Regions from separate parts of the Homo sapiens genome. Here region 1 is linked to region 2. The links come from fine-mapping of genetic effects on gene expression. Tissue or cell type: whole blood. Region 2 holds a variant in brackets; the other region holds the start of a gene. All regions are shown on one strand. Distances are from middle to middle.

Evidence for each region.
Region 1: it holds the start of NDUFAF5, and the variant in region 2 is fine-mapped to the expression of NDUFAF5 in whole blood (TOPMed, PIP above 0.99).

What each region holds. Positions count from the first base shown.
Region 1 is chr20:13,777,259-13,792,179 of GRCh38, reverse strand. It overlaps NDUFAF5 (NADH:ubiquinone oxidoreductase complex assembly factor 5), which reads right to left and starts at 7,152. Exons shown (of 11, transcript NM_024120.5): 1 at 6,890-7,152; 2 at 4,828-4,868; 3 at 3,528-3,591. The coding sequence starts at 7,111. It overlaps ESF1 (ESF1 nucleolar pre-rRNA processing protein), which reads left to right and starts at 7,261. Exons shown (of 14, transcript NM_001276380.2): 1 at 7,261-7,300; 2 at 8,997-9,676. The coding sequence starts at 9,040. RefSeq lists a silencer at 3,691-3,830 and enhancers at 6,242-6,931, 6,927-7,216.
Region 2 is chr20:13,717,271-13,732,522 of GRCh38, reverse strand. It overlaps ESF1 (ESF1 nucleolar pre-rRNA processing protein), which reads left to right. Exons shown (of 14, transcript NM_001276380.2): 11 at 4,058-4,145; 12 at 13,539-13,615; 13 at 15,009-15,155. Among named protein-coding and RNA genes, the nearest start is that of ESF1, 60 kb to the left of the region's middle. The variant A/G (reference allele first, on the strand shown) is at 8,126.

The DNA.
Region 1 (14,921 bases), 60 kb before region 2:
GGGTGAAGAATTAGATGGACAGGATTATCTATCCCTGTCTCTCACTTGAAAATTTGAACTAAGAGACTTCGAGATAATAGCAGAGGTCCCTGGAGTTGGAAGAACATTTAGACTTCAGGGTATAGGCAGTGGTGTGCTGGCTCTTGGTTGGGGACTGCTTTGTAGCATTTGCCAACTTCCATGGTATAAATATTCCCACCAGGGCTGATGTCAAGCTATCAATATGATGTCACAGAACAGAGGTTGGGAAGAGATGCTAACAATTGGCTCTCACAGGCTGGCCTAAGCTAGCTTCAGCTACCCTTGGGTGTAGCATATTCATATGGGGCCACACACACTGATGAACACTACTATGGATAGACTACAGGGAGTAAAAAGAATGAAGGCAACCAGACAGCATTCATGTAGTACCAGAGTGCATGCGAACAGGAGGAACATTGTTATGGTGTTTCAAAGTTCCCATCTCTTGTGAGGCCTGGCTCTATTTCTGGATCCCTGAGTTACATAAGAGCCTCTCTGTAACAAATGTCTCTGTGTTTAAACTGGCTTCAGCACATTTTTGCTTTCAACAATCAAAAGATACCTTACTAAGACACTTTCCATCTTACTATTCCTGGCATCTTTATTGGCTCTTCCTCTTTCTCCCAACCCTAAGTACAATTGCAGAAGGTTCTTTTCTATATTCTTGCCTCAGAGAGTTTACCTATTTCTACGGCTTCAATTGTCACTTCTGAAAGGGACTTCCAAATAAGAACTATAGCCTCCTTTGACAGGTTTACTTTGCCTCACTTAATCCCCTTACCAACCTTTTGAGATGGGTATTATTGATCATATTTTATAGAAACTGAGGTCTAGAGCAATTGATTGGCCCAAGGTCTGAGTATACACAGACAGTGGCAGAGCTGAAGTTTGAAGCCCTGACTTCAAGTCAATGCTCTTAACCTCAATATCCCAATTCCAGTTCCACATTTCCAACTACCTGCCAGCTATTTATACTACCATATTCCACTGCCATCTCAAACTCAACATATCTAAAACAGGAATGATCCCGTGCTCCTTGCCACATCACATCCCCTGAATTTTCCAGTCACAAAAGGTGTAACTTAAACTCTAAAGTTATCTTGCAATAGTCATTTAATAAATACTCATTGTGATTTAGGTACTAGGATTTAGTAGTGATCAAAAATGAGCAAATCCAGTAAGAGAAGAAAGACACCAAATAAACATACATCAGGAGCTTGTAAGTGCTATGGAAGCAAATAAAGCAACTAGTCGGCAGAAAGCAGGGGCACTATTTTCTAAAGCAGTCACGGGAGGAATCTTTGATGAAGTCAGCTGAGTAAAGATCTGACAGGTGAGCAACTAAGACACACAGATACCTTGGGGAAGAGCATAGAGCAAAGCTCTGGCCTGTTTGAGAGACTGCAAGGAGGCCAGGGTTGCTGAAAAGTTGGGAGTGAAAGGAAGAAGATGGGATCAGAGACATGATAAAAAAACAGAATCCTGAGGGTCTTATAGATTAGGACTCTGGATTACTACTAAACTAGATGACAAACTAACAGTTCTGGGCAGAGGACTGACAATGATTTGATTTGTGTTTTACGAGGATACTTTGCCATGACAACAGACTGTCAGGGACAAAGGTAAAGCAGGGAGACCAATAGGAGGCTACTGCAATAATCTAGGCAAGGGGCGATGATAGCTGAACAGCACGGTGATGGGGAAGGTGGCAAGAAGACATAAGAGTTTGGTTATATTTTGAAATGCAAATAAAAGCTGCTGACGGATTAGATGTGGGAGAGAAGGATATAAGAGGAATCAATAAAAATGTTTTTTGGCGTTGAGTTACTAAAAGAATAGATTTGCTCTGCCTACCATATCTGATCAGTCATCAAGTTCTGTTGATACTTCCAGGTCTCTCTCATACATCCCATCATTTATATGTGCTGGCTCTGCATGGGTGGCAGGCCTTTATTTCTCATGCCTGCAATGCCTTTAACACAGCCTTCTGATGGGTTTCTCTACCCTTTCTCTTCTTCAATCTTTCTCGAATGCCATCCCCAGATTAATCTTCCTTAAACATCACTATATCACACCCTACAGCATTCTACCTCTGTGCCTTTCCTCCTGCCATGCCCTGATTTCCAATGCTAGGAACCACCAACTCAAATTCTTTCAAATCCCAGGTCAGATTCTGTGCCCCCTGAGAATCCTTGACCACATGAACTCCTACTGATTTTTTCTTTTCCCCTAATTCCTGTTGCACTTTAATGACTGCACCATTTCTATGGCATTTACTATTACCAATAATAGTGTTTTAGGAGCCCCACCACTCCCTTCCTCACCCTGGCCCAAGTCTATGGTTTTATCTAAGCAGATTTTACGTAGAAATTCCACTTTATGAGGCTGGGCATGGTGGCTCACGCCTGTAATCCCAGCACTTTGGGAGGCCAAGGCGGACAGATCATGAGGTCAGGAGATCAAGACCATCCTGGCTAACACGGTGAAACCCCGTCTCTACTAAAAAATACAAAAAATTAGCCAGGCGTGGTGGCGGGCACCTGTAGACCCAGGTACTCGGGAGGCTGAGGCAGGAGAATGGCATGAACCTGGAAGGCAAAGCTTGCAGTGAGCTGAGATTGCACCACTGCACTCCAGCCTGGGCAACAGAGCGAGACTCTGTCTCAAAAAAAAAAAAAAGAAATTCCACTTTAAGGCTGGGCGCAGTAGCTCACGCCTGTCATCCCAGCGCTTTGGGATGCCGAGACAGGCGGATCACCTGAGGGCAGGAGTTCAAGACCGGCCTTGCCAACATGGTGAAACCCCATCTCTACCAAAAATACAAAAATTAGCAGGGCATAGTGGTGCACCCCCATAATCCCAGCTACTTGGGAGGCTGCGGCAGGAGAATCGTTCAAACCCGGGAGGCAGAGGTTGCAGTGAGCCGAGATCGTGCCACTGTACTCCAGCCTGGGCAACAGAGTGAGACTCCATCTCAGAAAAAAAAAGAAATTCCACTTTCATCTTTGTGTCCAGCACAATATCGTATAGATAGGAGCTAAAAGAATAAATTAATGTCTTCATGGTCTGAATTATAAAGTGCAAAATACAATGTTATAAGCATTAATAAAGCTACTTATATTTAATGATACAGAAAGATTTCTAATCAACTGATAAAATTAATATTTTTCTAGCTAAAAGTCACATTTTCTGTATGAATGCCAATCTGATTTTTATGGTAATTATAAAAAAATGTGAACAAAGAGAAATATATCTTCTATAGATTCAAATAAATTATCGGTAGAAACATAATATATAATGGATTCAGAGAAAAACCCTTTAAGAAAAAAATTCTAAAGAAGGGAGAAAACCACCATTGATTCTACCACTTAAAAAAAAAAACAAATTAACAATTCTGATATAATTAAAATCTAAATATGTTGCAAGCTAAACTGATTAGGAAAGTCTTTCTTTAAAATTAGCCAATGTTACTTTTCAAAGTAAATTAGGTCATTGAATAAATATACCTTATTCAAATATTGTGCAATGTAACCTCTTCCACAACCAAGATCCAAAGCAAGGGGGAAATTTCTAAAAAAAAAGACACAGAGGTTATGCTCTGTCCATAACACAGTCTATAAATTAAGAATTATTTTTTCTTAGGTAAAATCATTCCAGTAAACACAACTTCCAGAAGGTTACATCATCTGCCTTTTCAGCCTCACCTTACAAGCTGTATATACCAGAGCCTACAGTACAAGGCAAGTCTGTCTGCTAGCTATTCACAGGACCTTGTGATGAGCCAGCTTTCCACCAGGTGGCTCCATGATGTGGACTCGAAGAACAGATTTAATGAGGATATTTTAACTCAATAATACATCCAGATAAAGAATGCAAAGAAGCTAATGTAAATTAACTTGAAAATAACTGACATACTTATCAATAATTATCCCTATTTCTCAGACTTCTTGAAGCAGTGGAATACTTAGAAATCATCATGTGAAATACCATTAAGTATTAATGTTAAACTAAAAAATAAGAACTTAAGTAACAGTTAAACTTTTACTGAAAACGTACCAGGTTCAAAGTACTGTGCTAAGTGTCTGAAGCTAAGTAAGTCAAACCAAGTGCCTCAACTAACAAGGGGCAGTCAACACTTGAATTCGGTCAGTCTGAATCCTGAGCTGGAACTATTATCCTCCATGCCATGCTGTCTCCTCTAAATACACTATGTTATGCTACATTGGTACAGACATCTAATTGTAGGCCATAGGTTTAAAAAAAAAAACCTATAATAAGAAAACTTAAAATTTTATCTACTAAGAACATTCTTCCTGAAAAACTGGAACAAAAAGAGCCCCATTGCAATTTGTTTTTAAAAAGCTTTGTCAAAATTATAGTACATAGCTGGAGAATCCCTGGTGGTAGATAACCTTATTTACCTAATGCCCTATATCTTGATGATGAACACAGGCAATATGGCACAGTTAGGTACAGAGGCTTCGGATGTTAAAAATTCGCATGTTGTTAAGTATCTCCATTTTTGGAGCAATCTTTCTATTACTTGCTTTTGGCCAAATCAAGTGGATTCAGGCTTGGAGATAGATACGAGTTGTGCTTCCACACATTCTTTTCTTTTTTCAGGCAACAATGAAGAAAACATTTGCTCTCCAGACAAGAAAAAGGAGACTTACAGAGTGATTTAAATCACCAGTCTGAGTAAATTCTTCCAGGTTCTGCCATTTCAGATAGCAAGTTCTCAGCATTTAATCTCCTGAATTTCCACTCAAAAGTTGATGGTATTGTATTATGATCACCACCACTTACCTGGGTATGTCATATACACGGTCTGCGATCCGACTTCCAACCTGAAGGATTACACGAGGCGTAGGTTAACGGGGAAGTAACACTCTTTTTCCAGTATTCAACAATCCACAAGTTACTTATGTTTTAAAATAAGTACTTCCCTTTATCCCCTTTTCAATTTCACCACAGGAACTTTCTTCTCAAACCACCAGGAAACAAAATTGAGGCAAATTATTTCAGAAGTCAATTTCATGAAATCCAGACTAAATATTCTTAAAAATATACATATACACACACACACACACACATATATATATGTGGCCTTTACATTCCATGTGACATAAGATCACAAGGATGAAAAGCAAAAGGAACACAACAGGCACATTACTGTCCACGGATATTAGCATGAGGTACACAAAGTGAAAAATTAGTTAGTTGGGGTTTATTGTAGATGAGTATGTAAGTGGTCACTTAAGAAAAACTCTATTATTTGATGACTAACAAATTTTGTGGAACTCATAAATGAACAACTTTTCTGAGTGACATTCGCAAGTTAGAAAAAGCCAAATCTGAGGAAAGTGCACCTCCCCTGCTCCAATCCCATCCCAATTTAAGAGTCATAAGGTAAGCACCACCTTTTGCTGGCCTAGCTTCATCTGGTAGCAATAAAGACGTGGGAGTCTAGTATTCCCCACATTCCACTCATTCCCTCATAAACACCCCAGAGTTGCTCTTAGGACTTAAAAGTTCCAAACACAGATGTACCTGCTTTTTGAGAGAAGGGCAAGGGAGAAGGGAGCGTAGATGTTTTTCCCAGGAGTCCACCTTGTACGTCATTCCTAATATGAACACCCTATGTTTATTATAAAAAGAACTCTCATATACTTTATCTTATTTGTTCTAGTCTCACAAATTGGCGAGGCCTCAATCAAGTTGTAGTCCAGGTGCTTTCTTTGGAGGGAAAGGGCTATGAGCGCACATCTTCTAAGTACACGACATCAGCAGTGTAGTACGTGCACCATGCCTTACAAGTGAGACACAAAAAATTTATTGGTAGTAAACTTCCTATAATAGACATTACCAGCCTAAGACTTCCTGAGAAAGACACCCTGTCAATCATCTGATCAGACCTGTACTTGCACAGAGCTCTGCTCAAGCTATGAGTTCAATAACTGTTTGTTGCATTATACTTGACTCCAACTTTGTTCCACTCCTGAATAAAAATTTACTGAGGCCTGAACTTGAGAATGCGTGTCCTGAAAGTAGAAACCCTCAGTCTCTGGCTCACCTGGGCAGGGAGAAAGGTTTCTCAAACGAGCCAAGACAAATCAGAAATCTTAATTTGATCTTCCTAAAACATAAGTCAGATCACTCCACTGATTAAAACAAGAGCTTCACATTCCCCTAGAGCAGTGCTGACCAAAAATCATGAGAGCCACATATGTAATTTCAAATTTTCTAGTAGCCACATAAGAAAAAAAGTAAAAACGAGAGAAATTTTAATTGAAAAATTTAAATTTATATTTAATATATTTCATGTGACCCAATATATCAAAAATAATCACTGCAACATGTAATCAATATAAAAGCTCTTAATGAGCTATTTTACATCCTTTTTTCATACTAAGTCACTATACTCGTGTGTATTTTACAACACATCTCAATTGGACTAGTCACCTTTCAAGTGTTCAACAGCCACATGTGTGGCCGGCAGTTACCATACTGGCTGGACAGTGCAGATACAGAAGAAAACCCCAAGTCCCTATCCTGCAAGGCCCTGATGATTTGGGTCCTCCTAACCTTCTCTCCCACTCTCTCCCTCTCCGGAGCTTCACTGGAGGCCTCTATAAGGTCCTTTCAGCCTCAAGGACGTTGCCGAAATGAATGCATGAATGAATGAAAGCATGTTACAAATATCCGAGGCCAGGCCTTGCGTGATTACAGTAGAGGCCGAAAGAGGCAGGGCTGCTGGTCAAGGTCAGACGGCTAGGTGGGGTGAGCTCGGGGCCTAGCCGGAACTAGCGGAGAGGAAAACAAGCCTCCGCGTCGCCCGCCCCGCCGCCCCGCCGCCCCGCGGGCTCACCTCCTCCTTCAGGTAGTCAAATTTGGTCGGCTCGGGCTGCCGGGCTGCCCAGTTCTTCTGTTTCCTTTTCAAATCCCGGTCGAAAATATTCAGGGTTCTGGGCGAGGTGCTACCGCGGGGAGAGACACCAGAGGTGACTTCCCTACGGCCAAGATTCTCCGCTGGGACCCTCGCCGCCCAAGGTCGCCGACATAAGCGCCAGAGCCCTGCCGGCCGCAGCATCTCCAGCTGCGACCCCAATTGCCGGCGCTTTTTGTGCGCATGCGCCAGCGCGGCTTTTGTGTCTACTCCAAAGATCTTCTCGAGGGAACGTGCAAGTAGTTTGGCCTAGTTCGCTTGCCATTACGGCGGAGCGTCACGCGGAGGATTGTGGGTGTGAGCCCCACGTGAGGCTTGGTAGGACTGCGGACGGTGAGTGGGGATGGACTGGAGTTGAAGAGCTCGAGATGAAGGGCTTGAGGGCGTGTGTGTGTGTGGCGCGGGGAAAAAACTAGTCTCTAACAGGATCTCTTTCGGATCTGCGAGGGGTTTTGCCCCTTCCTCCTGAGCCTTTTTCGGTCTCATTCTTCAGTCTTCATCGATCCTTTTCAGGGTCGCTTCTCGAATCAGTCTGTTAGCTGCCCCCCTGCGGTACAGGAGGTGGAAAGGAGACCCTAGTTCAGGGGCCAGCCCTGTGTTCTCCGAATTAGAGAGCGGGCAGAAGGGGAGGGTGGGCTACGGGGATGCGGGCGCGTGTCGGGAGTGAGGTCCGGTCGCCTTCCCCTCTCTCGGATTATCTGACATATAATGAGTGCTTTCCTTCTAAACATTTACAATACATGCAGTACTTCTCCTGGTTGAGGTGGTACCTACCTCGTAAGATTGCTCAGAGAGTTAAGTGCTGTAATACATCGAAAAATGTGTAAATGCACCAGCGATAGCTTCCTTTTTTTTCCTAGTTAGTGTAATTAAAAGGACTTGATTTTTAAATAAGAAATATTGCCCTTTTAATCATTTTGGGGGGGGGTTGCTTAATAATCAACGACTTTTGGCTCTTTGCAAAATTCCCATCCAGAGATGCTAAACCATTGGAGACTTTTCACAAGGGAACAATATTAATTTATACACACATATGTATATGTTCTAGTATGTTTTGGGGGAATGAGCTCACTTGGGCCTTCATCACTGGTAGAATCAGATATTATAGAAAGAAGTGATATTTATTAACTGGTGTGAGACTTTACCTGGAGACTCAAATTTACTTTTTATTTTTAAACTTTTTATTACTTTTGAAGGATGATCGAATTTAAAAAGGAAACTTTCTTAGCTAAACCTGAGTTGATTTTGGTCTGTTTAGTTAGAATGCTAGTCTTACAGAACTAAAGGCTGTTTGTTGGCAGTAGCCGGAGATAAGGAGTAAGCAGAATGAGACCAGAATGTGAAGAAACAAATGAGGCCAACGGAGGCTAGGGAATCTTTCTTTCTTACTTTTTTTTGGTAGACAGGGTCTCACTCTGTTGCCCCAGCTGGTGTGCTGTAGTGCCGTTAGGCTCACTCTAGCCAAGACCTCCCGGGTGGAAGTGATCCTCTTGCCTTAGCCTCCAAAGTAGCTGGGACTACAGGCGCGCGCCACCATGCCGGGCTCATTTTTGTATTTCTTGTGGGGATTCACCATGTTACCCAGGCTGGTCCTGAACTCCTGGGCTCAAGTGATCCGCCCGCCTTGGCCTCCGAAAGTGCTGGTGAGCCACCGCACTCGGCCTAGGGAATCTTAACTACATTTGCCTTCAATTAGTAACACATACTGGTATACAAATAGAAATTCTAAGTGAGAGCAATGGATGAATAAACATTTGTTCCCCTCCATAAAGCCCTGGGATTCTGCTTTGTCTACCTTAAGTTTATTTCTCTAAATGATCTGTCATGGAAAGAGGATATTTTGGTATGTTTCTGCTTTTTTGCATGTGACCCAGAATACGTTGGAGAGATGAAATTAGACTTGTTACCTCTATTTTATGTACACTTAACTTAGAATATATTAACTTAGAATATATTGTGAATGTGTTTTAAAACATTTAATTATTGTACTAACCATTATTACCATTAAAACATTTGTTTTATTTTTCAGTATTTGTTTTCTTCAAGCATTTGGTCGAGATTAAGAATTAAAAATGTCATCCAAACAAGAAATAATGAGTGACCAGCGGTTTAGACGGGTTGCAAAGGACCCGAGATTTTGGGAAATGCCAGAAAAGGATCGAAAAGTCAAAATTGACAAGAGATTTCGAGCCATGTTTCATGACAAGAAGTTCAAGTTGAACTATGCCGTGGATAAAAGAGGGCGCCCCATTAGCCATAGCACTACAGAGGATTTGAAGCGTTTTTACGACCTTTCAGATTCTGATTCCAATCTCTCTGGTGAAGATAGCAAAGCATTGAGTCAAAAGAAAATAAAGAAGAAAAAAACCCAGACTAAAAAAGAAATCGATTCAAAAAATCTAGTTGAGAAAAAGAAAGAAACCAAGAAGGCTAATCACAAGGGTTCTGAAAATAAAACTGATTTAGATAATTCTATAGGAATTAAAAAAATGAAAACCTCATGTAAATTTAAGATAGATTCAAACATAAGTCCGAAGAAGGATAGCAAAGAATTTACACAAAAAAATAAGAAAGAGAAAAAAAACATTGTTCAACATACTACAGACTCTTCTCTCGAAGAAAAACAAAGGACATTAGACTCAGGCACCTCTGAAATTGTGAAATCTCCCAGAATCGAGTGTTCTAAGACAAGAAGAGAAATGCAATCAGGTAGGTTGGAAAAAATTAGAGATTCTTGGGTGTTACATTATTTATTTTTATACTGATCTTTCAAAAATGTAAACACATTAATAAGTATTTTCATAGTATTATGGAATGGTCAAATGCTTATCTGGAAATACAAAGCTATAAAAGAAATATGCAGTGATTATTAATTTTTGATGTGGTGCTAGAAGACAGACATGAAAATTTGAATCTTGAAGTTAAACAGTGATTTTGATTAGTGGTGAGCCCTAATGAGAACTATATTCTCTAACCAGATAAAGTGTTATATGTCATCACATGATAAGAAGAGATGTGTCTAAAGAGGGTAAGTAGGCCGGACATGGTGGCTCACGCCTGTAATCCCAGCACTTTGGCAGGCCAAGGCGGGCAGATCACTTGAGGTCAGGAGTTCAAGACCAGCCTGGCCAACATGGTGAAACCCCATCTCTACTAAAAATAAAAAAAAATAGCCAGGCATGGTGGCGCACACCTGTAGTCCCAGCTATTCGGGAGGCTGAGGCAGGAGAATTGCTTGAACCTGGGAGGTGGAGGTTGCAATAAGCTGAGATTGCACCACTGCACTCCAGACTGGCTGACAGAGCGAGACTCTGTCTCAAAAGTAAAATAAAATAAATAGGGTAAGTAGGACTCCGTCTCAAAAATAAAATAAGAGGGTAAGTAGAGTTGAGTACTCATTCATTAATTTGTTCAGTTGCTTTGCCACTAGTATGTGGCAGGCAGAATATGAGTAAGGCGTCGTCACCCATCTCAGGGCTGTCGCTAGCTTATATGATGCCTTTATGCAAATTAGAAAAAGGCATGCTCTCTGGACACACAGAGCTCCCAGGGGTCACACTTTGGTGAAGAGATGGCGCCTTTGAAGCAACAGATTTTTTGCCCCTGAGCAGACACAGCCCCCTCCAGAGTGCATGGCTTGGTGAGTGTAGGATGGCCTTGATTTTAGCCCTTCTTGTCCTTTTATAAATGCCCCTGTGCGGATAACAGCCTGCTAAACTTTGTGCAGTGGCCCCTGTCTAAAGCAACATTGTCTAGTAGAAATACATAATTTTGGATTTTCTAGTAACCACATTAAAAAGTAAGATGAAACAGGTAAAATTATTTTAAATAATATATTTTATGTAACCCAATATATCAAAATTATTTCAATATGTAATCAATATAAAAGTCAATGTATATTTTACATCCCATTTTCTACTCATTTCATACTAATACTATTTTCATATTAATGTCAAGTTAGACAAAACGCATTTCAAGTGCTCCGTTACCACATGTGACTACTGGCTACCATATTGGACAATATAGATCTAAAGTAGAAGAAAGTCAGAACCATAATACAAAATGCAATAATAGTAAGTGCCGTAAAAGATGTTTAGCAGAAAGCCATGGAAATCTGGAGGAAGAAGTCACTCAAGATGTGGTAATCAGAAAAATTCATAGGGGACGCACTACTTTGGGGTGTGGAAAAATTTAAGTTTGAGGACCAGAGTGTGCTACATGGAAAGAACTTTTTGAGCAAAGATGTGATTGGGCATGTTCAGAAGAGGTCAGTAGTCCCGTTTGATTAGATAATAAGGTCTTGAAGGGCCAAAATGAGTAGCAGCGAGAAATGATTGTTTGGAACTAGGTGAGAGACAGCTGGCTCTAGTTTGCATTACGTGTTTACTAATTAAAATTTTTTGTCACCTCCAGCAGCAAGCAATTTTGAGTGTTGATGTTGCTGATAGTTGAAGATGTAACTGAAAACCAGTAGTAGTTCACATGAGCCAGACCTGTGATTACAGGATCCAAGGAGGGGTCTTGATAGGCCGAGAGGTCTTGATAGGCCAAGAGGTCTTGATAGCCCAAGAGTTCTTGATAGGCCAAGAGGTTTTGATAGGCCAAGAGGTCTTGATAAGCAGAGATCACACTGTGAGGGTAGAAGGTATCAGGCAGTGGAGTGAATTCTGGATAGCAAGGACTAGGGAGTCAGTGGTGGTATCCCATTTTACATTTGTAGTGGAACCAGGCAGCAGACCTCTTGAGGTGTGGGAAGAAAGGATAGGAATCCGGTTACTAAAATTGAAGAATAAGATTGGAGTGGGACCGGCAGCAAAGTTGATTTGACACTGAATTAGTGAGGTAAGTTAGTCTAGCATCCACTTCATTTGGGGCACTGAATTAATATAACATAGCTATATAATCCTTTAGATTGATTTTACAGACTTTTTTACATATCTTTTCTCATTTAATTTTCTTAGTTACCTTGAGCAATAAGACTGTATCAGCGAACAAGATTAAAGTGACTTATGTAAGGACATGCAGACCTGGAACTGCAACTCAAGTCTTCTGACTCCTTCTACCCCACCACATTGCTTGCAGTAATTTTGTTGGTTCCACAGTCTAGGAAAGGCATTACTCATAAATAAGGATTACACGGCTCCATATATAATCTTCTGTTCATTATCCATTCATCAGTTATTACAGCAATTACTGTGTGCAAGGGCCTTTTTAAGTGCTGTGAAGTAAAGGTGATGTGAGGACTTGCAGTGTGATATTTGTCATCATGAAATGTTCATGCCCAGCACTTGCACTCCTCAGAATCTATTTTACATAAATAATTGGATGTGTGCAAAGAATGTGCATTGCAGCATTATTTTTAAAATAAAACGGTAACTGGCTGGGCACAGTGGCTCACCTTTATAATCCCAGCACTTTGGGAGACCGAGGCGGGTGGATTGCTTGAGGTCAGGAGTTTGAGACCAGCCTAGCCAACATGGCAAAACCCGGTCTCTACTAAAAATACAAAAATTAGCTGGGCATAGTGGTGCACACCTGTAATCCCAGCTACTTGGGAGGCTGAGGCACGAGAATCACTTGAACCCAGGAGGTAGAGGTTGCAGTGAGCCAAGATCGTGCCACTGCACTCCAGCCTGGGCAACAGAGCAAGACCTTGTCTCAAAAAATGAAAATAGAAATTAAAATGGTAACAAATCATTAAGAGATTAATTAAATATATGCAAACATCTGTGATCTATGAAGTTTTAAAAATAGGTTCCAAAATAACGATATGACCAGTTATTTTAAACAAATTAGTATTTAAATTAAAGAAAAGAAATTTAGGGATATGGTTGTATACTAAAATAACCAGTTATCTTTGAATGAAAAATTACTGCTAGTCACCTTTGTTTTATTTATTAACCATATTTTCCTAACTTTTTTTGGTTTGTAATGATCATTCATTATGTTTATAATTGGGGGAAAATGGTAAAGCAGTTTTTTTGGTTTTTTTTTGTTTTTTGTTTGAAGTAGCTGGATAAGTAGTAATGTTTACAGTCACTACTAGAGCAATACTGTCTAGGAATAGAGACATTTATATTTGTGTAACCCCACATTATCTTGCACAAGGCTGTGTACATTGTGGGCTCTAAGCAGATACTTTTTGGGGTTTTTTATTTTTATTTTTGGAGACAGGGTCTCGCTCTGCTGCCCAGGCTGGAGTGCAGTGGTGCAATCACAGCTCACTGCAGCCGCAACTTCCTGGGCCCAGGTGATTCTCCCACCTCAGCCTTCCGAGTCACTGGGACCACAGGTGCACCCCACCATGCCTAGCTAATTTTTGTATTTTTGTAGAGACAAAGAGTTTTGCCATGTTGCCCAGGCTTGTCTCAAACTCCTGGGCTCAAGATCCTCCCATCTTGGCCTCCTAATATGATGGGATTACAGGCGTGAGCAGCTGTGCTCGGCTGCAGATACTTATTGAATGAATAAATACTCTGAATGCAGTTGATATTGTTAAAAACATTGAAATGGAAGACCTCTTTAAGTCTCTTATGCAACACTTTATTATTATATAACCCAAAGTGTGGTATGTGTACCATTGTCATAAGTGAGAAGATTTTTGATGATACTCAAACTTCTAAAATATTAATAGTTATGTACTGTGTCAACATCTTAGAAAACAATGTAATTACCCTATCACTTCTGTGACTTTAGGAATATTGTTTAGAGCAAAACTAACTTTTAAAAAATTCAATTTAATAAAAAAATGATATTCAAAAATCATGAAAATGGTATAATGACTGACAGTTGAGAAATATTGCAATACTAGATAGACTGGGTCTGTAAGATGTTATTTCTAAGCTTGTTGCTTAAAAGTAAATTCTGCTTACCTCATAGTAACTTTCAATGTTGTGTTTTTCAGATCTCATATATAGAACCTGTGACAATGCTTTCATTTTGGCGCTTTTCACTTCTATTGGCTAGTTATTTTTATTAATCCCTGCTTCGTTGTGGTGGTAACATAAAAGCCCATTTCCTGCTTTTCCTTCTAACAAGATGCCTTTTCATTCAGTTAGTCTCAAGTCAAGTTGTATCTTTGTGAAGCCTTTTTATAAATACCTCTCTGCAGGCAAATTTAGATGTCTCTCACTGTATGGTGATTGAGAACATAGATTTATAAATCAGTAAATGGTTACCTTTTATTTATGAATCCATCAAGAGCATGAGATCGTGTTACAAATCTTCTCTCTTTTCCCTTATCCTAGCTCAATTCTTTGTATGTAGTAGATACTCAGTAAATATTTGGTCAGTGAATAACTATTATAAGATTATAGGACCAAGAGAAAATTAGTTCCAATTTCATTCTAAATCTTGAACTTTTAAATTTGCTTTTAATTTTCCAAACTTAGAGCCTGTAAGCAGAAAATAAGCTCCAACTTAAAGATGAGTAAAACACGTAAGATATATCTACACACCAAGTAGATAGAAGCCTGTGATTGCTTTAGAAGTAGGAAATGAGCCCTTTCAGAGTTGTGAGGACTAAAATTTCCATCTTAAGCAAAAACAGTCTTTCAATCTTGGTGTATTGCTAATCATGACAGTTGATTACAAAGTTCAAGACCTGGCAGAAAAAGTATAAATATTATTTCTCTGTCTTTATAGGTGATCTCATCCACATCACAGCTTCTGTTGTCAACTGCGTATGAATGAGTCACTGATCTCCAACCCAGACTTCTCTGAGCTGTACACTCTTATTATTGATACTTTCTTTTAGATGACTGAGTGGCACTTCGTATTCAACATATTCAAAACTGAACTCATGATTTCCCTCCACCAAACAAACTAGTTCATTTCCAGTGTTCCCTTTTCATCTTTCCATCTTCTTAGCTAACTAGCTCTGAAAGCTAAGAAGCTATGACTCATCTTTGACACTTCCAAAACTCCCAGTCCCCGTGTCAAATCTCCAGTCGGT
Region 2 (15,252 bases):
TTCTATACTGTGTGTTCTTATAATGCTTTTGGTATAGCTTTGACTTTTAGTGCTGTGACGGGTAGAGAGATGCAAAGCTGAATGATGCAGTGGAGTAATTTTTATACTTCTATTGTAGTCAGTGTTTGTGGAAATGGATAGTAAAATGGAGAAATTGGGTGTTTTGGGAAAAACTCTTTCTGACTTTGTTTTTCCTCTGCTGTCACACTACAACTATCAACACAGAAGAAGACTTCTGTGACCAAATGGGTAGGGAGTTTTCTCCACACACTAACCAGTGGACACCGGCTGGGTGACCTCCAATTCCAACACTACCTGGAGATAGTGTCAGATCCCATAGATTGGGGGCTCGGTCCCCAAGACTGCCTCCACCCTTTCAGACACCAGTCTGAAGTCTGGACATCCAGAACTTCTGATTGACTGGCTTCAAGTTGGGGTTCCCACGACCCCCTCTTTAGGTTCAATTAATTTGCTGGAGTGGCCACAGACCTTAGGGAAACATTTACACACATTTGCTGGTTTATCATAAAGGATATTACAAAGGATACAGAGGAAATAGGGTAAGGTATGGGGGAAGGGCTGTGGAGCTTCCATGCCTCCCTGGGCGCTCCACCCTCCAGGAACCTCCATGTGTCCAGCTATCCAGAAGCTCTGTGAACTCGTTTCTCGGGTTTTTATGGAAGCTTCATGATGCCAGCATTCCTTCCCCACAACTACAGGGCAGGACCCTCTCTGGGGAAGGTCTTAAGATGCACAATTAGAAAGGTGAGGGAAGAGTACAGTCCTGCCCTTAAGACCGAACACAAAAGACTATAGCAAGGGCTAAGGAACTTATGAGCCAGAAACCATGTATGAAAATAATATATATGTAACACCACGTGGGGTAAGAGCCCTGCTCCCATTGATGTGCTAACTAACTCTCTTCTTCCCTAGAACTCCTTTTCAAACTCAGTAGGCAGTAAAATATCTTTTTTTTTTTTTTTTTTTTTTTGAGACCGAGTCTCGCTCTGTCGCCCAGGCTGGAGTCCAGTGGCCTGATCTCGGCTCACTGCAAGCTCCACCTCCCGGGTTCACACCATTCTCCTGCCTCAGCCTCCCGAGTAGCTGGGACTACAGGCGCCCGCCACCACACCCGGCTAATTTTGTTGTATTTTTAGTAGAGGCGGGGTTTCACCATGTTAGCCAGGATAGTCTCAATCTCCTGACCTCATGATCCTCCCGCCTCGGCCTCCCAAAGTGAGTAAAATATCTTATAAATGAAATAACTCCACAAGTGTTAAGCTATCAGTTTATTGGAGATGTCTCAAGTGGGCCCTCATGGGGTCAATAAAGTAGTCATTCTGAGAATTGTAGCAGCTATTCAGTTTGATTTTCATTTGCTGGGAGCTTCGAGTTTGTGCTTTTACTTTTTCCATTCATTTGGGCTAAGTCTGGACTCGTTGGTCAGCAGCATTCAAAATACATTGTTGAGTGTCCAGGGTGTTCTAGACCCTACAGTACTCAGTACCGGCCTTGACTCCAACAGATCCTTTCCAACTCCACAGGTTCTTTGTATATAGAAGAGTTTCAAGAATTTTCTTCAAGTTAAAAATATTTTTGCCCATTTGTTCCTCAGTGGTTTCAATTTTGATACTGAAAAATTATTACTGAAGAAATGAATACCTGATATATGCCGTGTTATCTAGTATTTTGATCTAGCTGTTGTTGAGATCTATAAAGCAGTTAAAGAAATGTGTTGAGTAGGTACATAGCAAATATTCTTTGTTAAAAGTATGTTACTGCTGAATCCATAAAATAGTTTGGTAAAAAAAAAAAAAAATTCTTAGAAGCGCTTGTTCTGGCTGGGTGCGGTGGCTCATGCTTGTAAACCCAGTACTTTGGGAGGCCGAGGCGGGCGGATCACAAGGTCAGGAGATCAAGACCATCCTGGCTAACACAGTGAAACCCCGTCTCTACTGAAAATACAAAAAAATTAGCTGGGCGTGGTGGCGGGCACCTGTGGTCCCAGCTACTTGGGAGGCTGAGACAGGAGAATGGCATGAATCCGGGAGGTGGAGCGTGCAGTGAGCCGAGATCGTGCCATTGCACTCCAGCCTGGGCAACAGAGTGAGACTCCGTCTCAAAAAAAAAAAAAAAAGCACTTGTTCTTGGCCAGGCGTGTTGGTTCACGCCTGTAATCCCAGCACTTTGGGAGGCTGAGGCAGGCGGATCACCTAAAGTTAGGAGTTCAAGACCAGCCTGCCCAACATGGTGAAACCCCATCTCTACTAAAAATACAAAAAATTAGCCAGGTGTGGTGGCAGGCGCCTGTAATCCCAGCTACTTGGGAGGCTGAGGTAGGCGAATCGCTTGAACCTGGGAGTCAGAGGTTGCAGTGAACTGAGGTCACGCCACTGCAAGCCAGCCTGGGCAACAAGAGCAAAACTCTTGTCTCAAAAAAAAAAGCCAGAAGCACTTGTTCTTAAAAGGACATTAATGTCAAAATAAATATTCTTTAGGGCTTTAGTGATTCTTTTTGCATGCAGGATGTTTAACAATAATGGCATTCTAAATATTTTTGTTTAAATGACTTGAGATGTTTTAGATTGCTAGAGATAAATTCAGTCTGGTTAGCCTGATCTTAGTTCACATGTGTTCTATTTATTGTATAGATTTGATTGCTTTATTTAAATTTGCTAATTTAGTAAAAAGTCTGTTCAAATTAGATTAGGAAAAATTTAACCAACAGACTTACTTAAAAATAGCCTGACAGTTTTTAGGGGTGGCTTATAGATAAAACAAGATAATTGTTAAAATTGGGCGATGAGAACAGAGGGTTCATTACATTGTCCTACTTTTGTGTATGTTTTAGATTTTCATAATAAAAATTCTTTTCTTTAACCAACAAATAAATTGTTGTAACTAATAATTTAAGAGATAATTCACAGTGCACTACTTCAAGTAATTCAGTCACTATCATTTTTCAGTTTTATGAGAGAAAATGCCACCTCCCATCACTGATCACCCATCTAAAAGTATTCTTCTCCTTCAGATCTTCTCCTTCAAATGTCTGCATCACTTTGTCCCTCCTAACCCTTCCTATCTTGAATTATTTTTATTTATGTATTTGTCTATTTATGTGTTTATGTGTCTGATTTCCTTTAATAGATGGTAAAATTTTTGAGGGCAGAAACCATGTATCTGATAACTTCCATTTCTCCCAAAAGGCCTACATGGTTTCCTGCATTTATTAAGTATTCTATATTTTTTGTTTGTTTGTTTGTTTTGAGACGGAGTCTCGCTCTGTCGCCAGACTGGAGTGCAGTTGCGCCATCTTGGCTCACTGCAACCTCCGTCTCCTGGGTTCAAGCGATTCTCCTGCCTCGCCTGCCAAGTAGCTGGGATTAGAGGTGCCCACCACCATGCCTGGCTAACTTTTGTATTTTTAGTAGAGATGGGGTTTCACCCTGTTGGCCAGGCTGGTCTCAAACTCCTGATCTCAAGTGATCTGCTCACCTCAGCTTCTCAAAGTGCTGGGATTACAGACATGAGTCACTGCACCCAGCCTCTATAATTATTTGTTGAACAAACAGAATAACTTAGGTGGGAGTTGTTTTATAAACTGGTCCATTTAAAAACTGGTTTACTTTTTTTTTCTTTTAATTATTTTTTTTTTTGAGATGGAGTCTCGCTCTGTTGCTCAGGCTGGAGTGCAGTGGCACGATCTCGGCTCACCACAACCTCTTCCTCCTGGGTTCAAGTGATTCTCCTGCCTCAGCCTCACGAGGAGCTGGGACTACAGGCATGCACCACCATGCCCAGCGAATTTTTTTGTATTTTTAGAAGAAATGGGGTTTCACTGTGTTGGCCAGGCTGGTCTCAAACTCCTGACCTCGTGATCCACCCGCCTTGGCCTCCCAAAGTGCTCAGATTACAGGCGTGAGCCACCACGCTTGGCCACTGATTTACTTTTAGATTGAACTACTTGGTTTAAAAGAAATGCATAGTTTTTCTTGGTATACATTTATTATAATTCTTGTAATAATGAAATTTTGTATTTTTATATTCAACTTTTAAGGCTCTTGCTGAAGAGGCCAGTGAAGAGGAACTTCCCTCTGATGTTGATTTGAATGACCCATACTTTGCTGAAGAAGTTAAACAAATAGGTAAGCCAGCTCATATCTGTAGTTTTCAACTGGAATCTAAAGAAAAAGGTGAGGTACATGGAAGCAATATAAACTAATCATTCTTTTAAAATTGCTAGTATTTGTGTAGCTCCCTTAGTGACATAAGCAAGTCTGTCCTGTGGCATACAGTCATTAATCTGATTGGGAAGGGTCAACTTGTCCCTTCTACATACAAGGGATAATTTTAATATAGGAGACTTTTGATAATGTGGTTAATAGTTTACTGGGGATTCCTTTCTGGGAAATATCCTTAGTGCCAGTCAGATCGACTCTATAAAAGAATGAGAGGAAATAGAAAGAGGAATAAATATTTTCTTGTGTACTTTCACTGATTTTTAATAGCGTATCCATTCTAGGTCCCTCTCAGCAAAGTCTATCAAGAATTAAAAGTATGAAACAAATTTGTTTTTATGTGCATGTTGATATGTGTATAATTTTTTTAAATTTATGCATGAAATTTCATATAAAAGCTTTTTCTGCTGAAACATACAAAAGCATCTATGTTTCATTTTATCCCTTTTGTACTCATTATGCTTAATTATAGCTAGAAAGCCAGCTTTCCTTACTCCTCTTTTTCCTTGAATCCCTAAATTATCTGGTATCTGATTTCCTATATCCAGGGAGCCTTGTTTCCACCTCATATGCACTACTCATTCTTTCTTTCCTCCATTATGTGGAGGAAATGCGTATGTGTAAATGTGTTTGGTAAGGTTCAGGCCATACTTGGTAAGTCAGTACAGAAATCACTGTAAGGATTTACCATTTGTTCTCATGCATTTTGCCTTCCCCGATCATTATACCACACACAAGAACCCCAAAAGGCTTGCTCCTGGAGCAACTCCACGCTGGCATTGTAAAGAGAAGGAGTTTATGAAGTTTCCCTGTTTTTTTCCCTTGTGACTAGTGGGCCAGAATAGTTCTCAACAGGAAAGTCAGAATTGCTCAAAATTACTTCCTGATTGTTACAGCTTTTTAGTACTGACATTTTATTGATGAGAAGGAGATTAAGATAAATAAAGTCTATTATAGAATGTGAGATTCTTGGGAATTGGACAGAGAAGTGGAAACTTAGCATATTCTGCTTTTTATCATACCTGAGTGGTCATTTCTAGAAGATGATGGATTTTAGCCTTATCCTCTGGTTTCAGGAAACCAACTTTATAATGGAGAAATGCTAAGCATTATAGTTTCCTTGTTCTCTATCCAAAATGTTTCCTTTGGCATGTGAAGTCTGGTCAAATTGCAGAACTCAGAATAGGATTCAAAGAATAAGTTAAATGGTTTGATGGCTTGGGGTAGCCAGTTTTTTGGAATCAACACATTTAAATTGAGAGTAAGCTTTCTGTAAAGTTATTATCAGAAGTTCCAAAGAAAAAAGGTATAGATAAAATTTGCTTGCTTATAATTTACTTTTGATTTCAGAGTGTTCCCAGAGGGTAATTGTTTCTATCTGGGCTTTTCTGTTTTTGTGTGTGTGTTTTGCAGTGGGTTTTGTTTTGTTTTGTTTTGTTTTGTTTTGTTTTGAAAAAGCAAAACAGCAAGGCCAGAATTTTTTACATAAAATTTAGGACAAAAAGCTAGTGTCTTGCCATGTTTGTTTATTCATTCTGTAATAACTGTTTTGATTGCCTACCAGGTGCTGAGCTCTCTGCTAGGCTAGAGATACAGTAGTGATAATACAAACAGGATTGCATCCCTCATGGAGTCTGGTTTAAAGAAAGACATGTTAGACAGATAAATAGTATGAGGGTATGGTAAATGTTTTCAAGGAAAGAAATAGAAGATATAACTGGATAGAAGTAGGAGATATGGGAGTTTACATTGGGTAGGCAAAGAAGGCTTCTCTGAGATGATGGCATTAGAGCTGAGACCTGTGGAATGAGGAGTCAGGCATGAAGAGCTGGGGGAAGAGCATTGCAAATGAGGGGAGAGTGGGTAGAAAGACTCCAAGGTGAGAATGCACTGTGTGGTGTTAAGAATTGAAAGACATCAGTGTGGCTGGAGCATTGTCGGAGAGGGAATTGGTATGAGGACAGGCTGGAGACTCAGTGGAAACTACCCCTGTAGGGCTTTGTTGTCCTGACAACAAATTTAGATTTTACTTTACTGATAGTGGAAAGCCCAAACAGTCTTTAAGCAAAGATGAGACATAATCTGGTATAGATTAACATATTACTCTGGTGCCTGTGAAGAGAACAGTTTGAGGACTGGTGAGGGCTGGAAGACCAGACTTTTGCCGAGCTCTAGACCAAAGATAATGGTTGTTTACCTGGCATGCCGCTCGTGGAATTGGATGGAGAAGAGAATGGAACTCTAGATATACTTTGGAAGTATACTTGCTAAATCAGGAAGAAATTTAGCATAACTTCTGTTTTTGGTTTGAGTCTATGGAAGAATGTTCTTCCATTTACTGAGGAAGAAATGTGGAAACAATAAGTTTGAGTGGGAAGCAAAGTAAATACGTCCATTTGTGGTATAATCACTTTGAGATGTCAATTAGATATACAAATGGAGGTGTTTGGTTGATATTGAGATATAAGTCTGAGAGATGAGCAGAGAAATCAGAGTACAAATATAGAGTTAAGGATCAGTAGCATGTAAATAGTACTTCAAACCATGGCAGTGCGAGTAGAGAGCAGTGATAAGAGAAGAGGATGCAGGATGGGCCCTAAGGTCAGGTGAAGTCCACATGAGGCACTGTTAATCTGTCATACTGGAGGAAGTGCTACCTGAAAGGATGGGAAAAGCTTAAGAAGCTGAGAAGCGGCGGCTGGGAAATAGGAGGAACAGTATTAATGTAGTGGCTCACAGACACTTGGTGAGGTGGTAGAGGTTTCAGTAGATTAGTGTGGGTTAAAGTTTGAGGTGAAAGGTAAGGAAGTAGAGACCAAGAATGTAGATCTTTTTTCAGAAGTTTCACTGTGAAGGGGAGCAAAGACGTGGAGCAGTACCTGAATGTAGGTAAGGAGAAGGTATTTTTTTAAAGATATGAGCTTTTAGGGCATGTTTTCTTTCCCTTGGGATTGTTCCAACAGAAAAGAAGTTACTAAGATACAGAAAATGGGGGAAATAAAAGTAAATACAAATGCAGATAAATTTGTATATTTGGTGGCAGAAGGATGAGGGATTTACCTGATTGGTTTATGGATTTATACTGTTTGTTCATTCACTTGCAGAAGCACAGATAATCTGCATGAGCAGATAGGGTAGGGACGTAGAAACAGGTCACTGGAGGGGGCAGGGTGCAGGAGGTTACTGCCTAAGGCGGTTGATTCAATTAATTGTCAATTTTAAGGAGAGTGTTCAGGTCTGGATGGCTGAAAATGGAGAAAGATGGGGCGTATAAATTTGAAGGCCAGGCCAGATACAAAACCATAGAACATGTGGCAAGAGCAGCGGTATGGGAGGCCTAGGCAGAGAAAGAGAGAACCAGCTGAGCCACAAAAGGAGCATGTCCCTTTTAAATCATGCTGGACATGGCTTTTCAAAGGCACATTACAAAGCTGTGTGCCCCCATTCATGTACGTGGTTATTCAGTCAACAATTATTGAGTGTCAGAATCACCCAGTCCTCCCATATGACTTTCAGCATGTTACAAAATATTTAAATATATGAGAATGATACAGTTTTCCCATACTTTACATTTTAATCTGACTTCCTATGGTATAACTGGACTTTTAAAATATGTGTTAGATATATATCATGTATATGCTCAAATAGATGGATTTAATGAGAAGTTTTTACTCAATTCTGAACCTTTTCCTCCCCAGCAAAAACTAAATTTGTGCTTAACAGTATCCAGAAGACATAAGGAAGAATATATTGAATGTTAACATTTTGTACTCATGATCCAGGAGGATGGTTTTAAGGATAGGTGGAAGCATGCTTATAACCTCAGGGAAATGGATTCCCATAGGGAGTCAGGAAGAAGTTGGAAGTTTTTTGTGTGCCTTCCAGAT[A/G]TAAGGATCTGTAGTAGGTACTCTTAAAGAGAGTTGGACTTTGGTTCAAAATTTACCAGTTTGTAATTTTTATTTTATTTTTATTTTATTTATTTATTTTTTTGAGACGGAGTCTCACTGTGTCGCCCAGGCTGGAGTGCAGTGGCGTAGTATCTGCTCACCACAGCCTCTGCCTCCTGGGTTCAAGCGATTCTCCTGCCTCAGCCTCCCAAGTAGCTGGGACTACAGGTGTGTGCCACTGTGCCCAGCTAATTTTTGTATTTTTAGTAGAGACAGGGTTTCACCATGTTGGCCAGGCTGGTCTTGAACTCCTGACTTCAGGTGATCCGCGCGCCTCGGCCTCCCAGAAGTGCTGGGATTACAGGCGTGAGCCACCACACCCAGCCAGTTTGTAATTTTTAAAATGTAGAAATAAAATAACTCAGATGACCTACATTGGTATATTAATTTATTACTACAGTGTTGCCTTCATTATTAGTTTGTCAAAATAATTTTAGATTTTAGTACCTGGTGGAAGTAAAATATAGTCATTATCTAAGGATATAGACCTTGCTTTTCAAAAATATTTAAGATATAATGAATTTGGCACACTAGTGTTTTCAGTGTACAGTTCAAGTTCTGTAGTTAAACAGGACAAAAACATTGTAAACCAGATGACTTGGGTACATTTATAACATTTTTGCTCTAGGCAATCCCATAGAGCTAAACTTATGTGCCTTCAAAATGTGGAGGAAATGAGTTCATTGATGCCAGACCTGGCGTTTGGCTCAGATTAGGTGCCAGGGTGAATGTTAGAGATCTTTTATAATTTTTTCTTCTATCTTTTATAATTTTTTCTTTGATTTCCTTCTAAATTGCAAACTTGGTGTCAAATGAGAGTTTTAAAAATATCATCTAGGATGAGCACATTAATGAGCTGAAAATGAAATGAAATATTAGAAAAATCTGCTAATTTTCCAGTGGTAGCTGGTAGAATCTGAGTCCTAGTGGGCTTCCCTTTATTTTTTGTAATTTTACAACATTGTAAAGCAGCACCAGAATGTGGTAGCCTAGAGGGAGATTAACCCTAGAGGGAGATTATCCTTAACAGACTGCATCTGATTATGGGCAAGTGATGCAGGAACTTGGTACAAAAGAGTAAATCACTAGGGCGCTTACCACTCCCATCTGGTCAGTACTGAGACCACATCCATCTGCCCTCCAGTGAACTTTCTTAGCTTCTCTCATATGAATTGCTCAACTAAACCCTCTGGAGGAAGTTTATTATGGGAACAAGTCTCTGACATTATAAGTAATGGGAAATGAAATTTCCTTTACAGATGAATTTTATTTTTACACACTATCTTTTTCCATGGATGTATTCTGTTACATTTTTTGCCTAAAAGGATTCTAGCCTCAGTAAGGATTGGTTAGATTTATTTAACTGTAAAACTCTAATATCTGACTCGGAGTCTCTGTTAGTATTGACTTAATAGAATCAATCCATATGTATTTTTTGCAGCAGTCCCAGGAGATGTAGTTTCTTTTTTTTTTCTTCTTTTTTTGACAGCATTTTGCTCTGTCACTCAGGGTGGAGTGCACAGTGGTGCTATTATGGCTCACTGCAGCCTCGAACTCTCCTGGGTTCAAGTGATCCTCTTGCCCCAGCCTCCCAAGTAGCTGGGACTGCAGGCATACACCACCATGCCTGGCTAATTTAAAAAAAAAAAATGTGGAGCTGGGGTCTTGCTTTGTTGCTCAGGCTGGTCTCAAACTCCTGGCTTCAAGCAATCTTCCTCCTTCAGCCTTCCAAAGTGCTGGGATTATAGGTGTGAGCTACCACACCCAGCTAGAGATGTGGTTCCTTACTTGACAAAAGATTGACTGAAAAATAAAGACAATATTTTAGAACACAAACTTTCATTTCCCTAGTACTGTTCATCTAACTTAAGTCTGAAATTTTTCCAGGGAGGAAAAAATGTTTTTTAAAAAAATATAGATGTGATCTCTTAATATTTGATCTTATTAACAGTGCAGAAATCATCTGTATGCATTGTTTATCTTTTCACTAAACAATTCAGTCTAACATCATAGTAAATTCTTTGTTAGCAAAGAAATTTTCTTCATGCTAAAACCGGATATCATGTTTAGCCCTATCTTGGGGATTTTTTTTTCTTTCTCCCTTATTACAGTCCTCCTTTCAAGTTTATTTTTAAGACTCTTCACCAGGTTGTTATAAAATCTGAAATAGTTTATTGTGGGCTTTTTGAAATTATTTTCCACAGCTGTATGTGAAGATCTTTATCTGCTTTAAATATTAATTATATACAGTCTAATTTTCTCCCTGCTACAGAATAATATTTTGCATATGTCATTTGTCCATTCATTTCAAAAGGAGCTCTTGGCTTGAGAGCATAGGAGCAGTGGTAAATTTAGGGAATGGGGGGTTCATACCCTAAGCAAGTGGAACCTTGATGATATTTATATGTGTAAGGACATACACATACATTAAGACAGAGAAAGATTATACTCTTAAGATTCGTATATTATTCCCTGAAAAAAATTTCAGATAGGACCAGTGATGAGGAGCATTTTCTCTAGGGAGAAGGGCTGCATACAATAAATATTTCTTCTTGGAAGTGCAAAACAAATGGCTTGGTAGCACTGATAGGCAAGCCTGGCAGCACTTTTATGCTGGCATGTTCTCTTGGCTGGGCATGTCTACTGGACAGGTGTGCAAGAGTATTCGCAGGGACTTAATACACACAGAGGAGTTTCTAAAGCCTCTTTTGACTTTAGGTTTTGCTTATCATGTTACCCCATTAGCTGCAATTCTTCAACCATCTTGACCATTCCCTTCTCCTGCCACACCCTTCTTCAGGTGTTCTCACATATCACCTCCCTCGCTTCATCCAGGTCATTGTTTGTGTGTCACCTTCTTGAAGAGGCCTTCCTTAACTACCCTAACAAAACCAGCCCCCTCATTCAGTCTCCAACCCTTCTGTCCTGCTTTGCCTCTGTCTTTCCCAACGTGAAGGTATACTACATGAGAGACGATTTTAACCTCTTGTTCACGGCTTGTGTCACCAGCACCTGGAGCTGTGATCGCAACATAATAAGTGCTCAGTTAACATTTGTGAGATAGGCGAAATAATTTCCTTCTGTTTATTGACCATTTGGTTTTGTCTGTGAATTCTCTTTGCTCTGTGTTAATATTTTCATTTACATGAAATCTTTATAAGTGAAAGATATTAGTATTATAATAGAAGCAGTCATTTCTTTTCTTTTTTTTTATCGAGACAGAGTCTCGCTCTGTTGCCCAGGCTGGAGTGCAGTGGCACAATCTCTGCTCACTGCAACCTCTGCCTCCCAGATTCAAGCAATTCTCCCGCCTCAGCCTCCCTAGTAGCTGGGACTACAGGTGCTGGCCACCACGCTTGGCTAATTTTTTTGTATTATTAATAGAGACAGAGTTTCACCATGTTGGCCATGCTGGTCTCAAACTCCTGACCTCAGGTGATCCACCCACCTCGGCCTCCCGAAGTGCTGGGATTACAGGTGTGAGCCACTGCGCCCAGCCGTTTCTTGTTTTTAATTATGAAAATTTATACATTGAGAAAAATTGAGAGAATAATACAGTGAACAGCACCTGTGTTTGGCAGTTGTTAACATTTTGCCATTTTACTTTTGTATGCATATACTTTTATGGTATATCATAAAAATGTATTTATACAAGATGTTACTATATAATAGACATATTTAATAGTAGTCTTTTTAGTTCACTATAGTCTAGAAGATACCATATACACTTCCCCCTCCCATAACATTTGCCTTTCAAGAACCCAGGCTAGTGATCTTTTGGAATGTCTTATATTCTAGATGTATCTGTTCCTTGCCACTCGGTCCACTATATTTTCCATAAACTGGAAGTTAGACGAGTGGTTCCATTAGATTCATGTTGAATGGTTTTGGCAAGCATACTTCATAGGCAATGCTTATCTTTCATATTATATCACATCTAGGGGCATAGGATTTCATATTGTTCCAAAGATGACTTGCTGAGGGTGGTACAGTGCCCAGCGGGGGATTTTCTTAGGCTCTCTAGGTGGTCAAACAAAAGGCTTGAGTGGGTCACACTTGGCTCTCATGGGTAGTTAGCCCAGGAAACACAGCAGGGCAGTATTGGGTGTTTCTCTTCATCGAGTCTTCACGGCAGTTCACTCAGCAGTACAGCTTGGGTACAAGGAAAGGAGACACAGTGTACAGTAGTCACCCTGGGCGAGAAGTCTCATGTTCCAAATAGGAACTGAGAGCTTTTTAACAGCACCTAGACATAGCTTCCAGATCCCTGTTTTACCAGTTACAGGAGTCACGGTATCAAGGAAGCCCAAAGTTATAAGCATTTAGAGACCCCAATACATGTTATTTTCCAGTCAGGAACCACTTTACCTGGTGGTATTGCCTGGTAATAGAGCTAGAAAGTTCACTAAAGATCAGATTTGTCTTCAGAGAAGGAGAAAGCGTTTTTTAAAACTTATATTTACAGGTAGTGACTGTCAAATTATTATTATAAAGATAAGTTTTTTCATTTTGCAGATGAGAGTTTGATATATAGTGTTGAGTTTATATATTCAAATCACTTGGGGGTTTTTTCTTTGTCTCTTCCAGTATTCTTATGCTAAGAAAATATTTCTTCTATTTAAGATACAGTAGCTGTTCCCTTGTATTTTCTCATAGGGGTTCTTTGTTTTATTTTGTTTGATATTTAACTCTTAAATTCACCTGCGTTTTATTTTCTTATGTATTATGAGATAAGGCTTTAATTTGATCTTTTTTTCCAGAATGAAACAAATTGCTCAACAGCAGTTATTAAACAATCTTTTCTGTTTCTAATGATGATGCTATATTTTATTATATACTGTTTCATCATTTTTATTGTGTAGGAATTTTTTGGTTATTTTCACTTTTCAGTACACGTTAATACACTATGTCACTAGTACATGGAATCTATGTAATCTTTCTAAAGATTTCCTTGAATGGAATTTTTTATTTAGAATTTCATTAAATGTGTATACTACTTTTATTATGAATGGATGTTGAATGTTAATCAGTATTCTTATGTTTATGGACATGCTTATTCTGTATCTGTGGAAATGATCTATGGTTTTTCTTTTTTAATTGGTAATGTAAATTATACATTACTTTGAAAGAAATTCTTCCTTTGTAACATGCAGTCACTCCATGCAGAAGCATTGTATTTATTCCATTCATATACCCACAGTCTTCTTTCAGTAACGTGTTTTTTTCTTTTAGTTTCAACACATTTATTGTTAAGATTATTCCTAGATATCTTATATTTTTGTTCCTAGTATAAACAGAATGTTGCTGATAGTCCTGTAATTTTTACCACTCTTATGTTGGTTTGTTGTGCCAGGTATAAATAAAAAATCGGTAAAATCTGCAAAAGATGGCACATCTCCAGAAGAAGAAATTGAAATAGAAAGACAAAAGGTAAAATACGATTATTGTTACATGCTTAGTGGATAATTCATAGGTACAATTTAAATGAAGTTGTACATGTCACTAATTTTAAAAAACAACTTATTTTAGCAGTGGCATTTATAACTAAATTGTAAGAGACATAATTAAATATTTTAGCAGTGTAGTTTCTAAATACAGTGTTTTTTTTACCAAACATAATTTCTCCAAATTGTACAAAGTTAAAATTAACCTCAAATTCAAGGGTATTTATTTTCTTTTATAAATTAAGAGGGAATTATCTCACTTTTAAAAACACTTACTATACCTGAGGCAGAAAATACCCTTAAAACCTCAAAATAATATTGCCATAAGTTTTAATTCAATCTGAATCTGTCCTGGAATACAGTTTGTGGTTATGGTTTGTCAAATGCAAATTTCTGTTTTTCTTATTGTGAATATGTATATTTAACGTACAAAATTACATTCTTGGAAATGCAGTGAACCTTATGCTTCAGTGACCCCCTATGTCCAGAGTCACACGTAATTTTGGCACAGAGTCATATGTGATTTTGCTGAGGCAGGAATTGAAGGCAGCAGTGCCCCTAGGGCTGATGTTCATGTCACTGTCCAGAAGTGTGCCTGACTGGCCACATAAAGTTATCTAAAGAGCAACAAAGAAAATCAATTTTTATGGAAAATGTCTCTGAAAAGCCAGCTAAAAGTGCCAGTGACAAAAGGAAATTAAGGCAGTCTAAAGTGGTAATATAGGAAGATCCACAAAGGTCGAGAGCATACTCTGTATTTTTACTAGTGTACATGGTTATTTACTTGATTCTTGAGGGTTCTCGTTTAATCCCATGGCTGGTAGAAAATACCCGTTTAGTGTAAAAAGACATTTACTAGATTTCAGAAGCAGATCCTAAGGTCCTACCTTCATAGAAATGTATCAGTATTGAAACAGTAAAGGCCAAAAAAAAAAAAGCAAAAAAAAAACTTACTTGTTAAAAGTTACACATTTAGAAAGTATAATTTGCATCACAAAATAAACATTTGCTAGATTTAGCATCATTGCGCAAAAAGAACAAAGTGAAAATGAGAACTTTTTATTTGAGGGTAGTTGGGGACTCTTGTTCCTGCAGCCTACTAATGAGTCACACTAAGTGAAATGGGGCCTGGTTTTTAACTACAAGGTTTTACCTCTCCTGCTCTCAGTAATGTTGCTTCCAGAGATTCTACCTTATTGCTATACAAAGATCTCTTTGTTTTGGTAATCCACAGTCAGTTTACAGACAACAGGTGGTACCCCAGAGTTCTAGTGATTGAGTCTTCCTTTCTAGAAGAGATATCTTCTGCCCTATACTCCTTTTTGGGGGTGGAAAAAAAAGCACTGTTGTACATTTGAACTTTTTTTTGCTCTCTACAGGCTGAAATGGCTTTGCTTATGATGGATGAGGACGAGGACAGTAAGAAACACTTCAATTACAACAAGATTGTGGAGCACCAGAATCTGAGCAAAAAGAAGAAAAAGCAGCTCATGAAAAAGAAGGAATTAATAGAGGATGACTTTGAGGTAACCATAGACACCAGGCATAGCCTCTTAAAGCTGGAATTGAATCTAAAGTCAGCTCTGCAGATAGAAATTGAGCATAGTCAAAGTTACCCTTGAA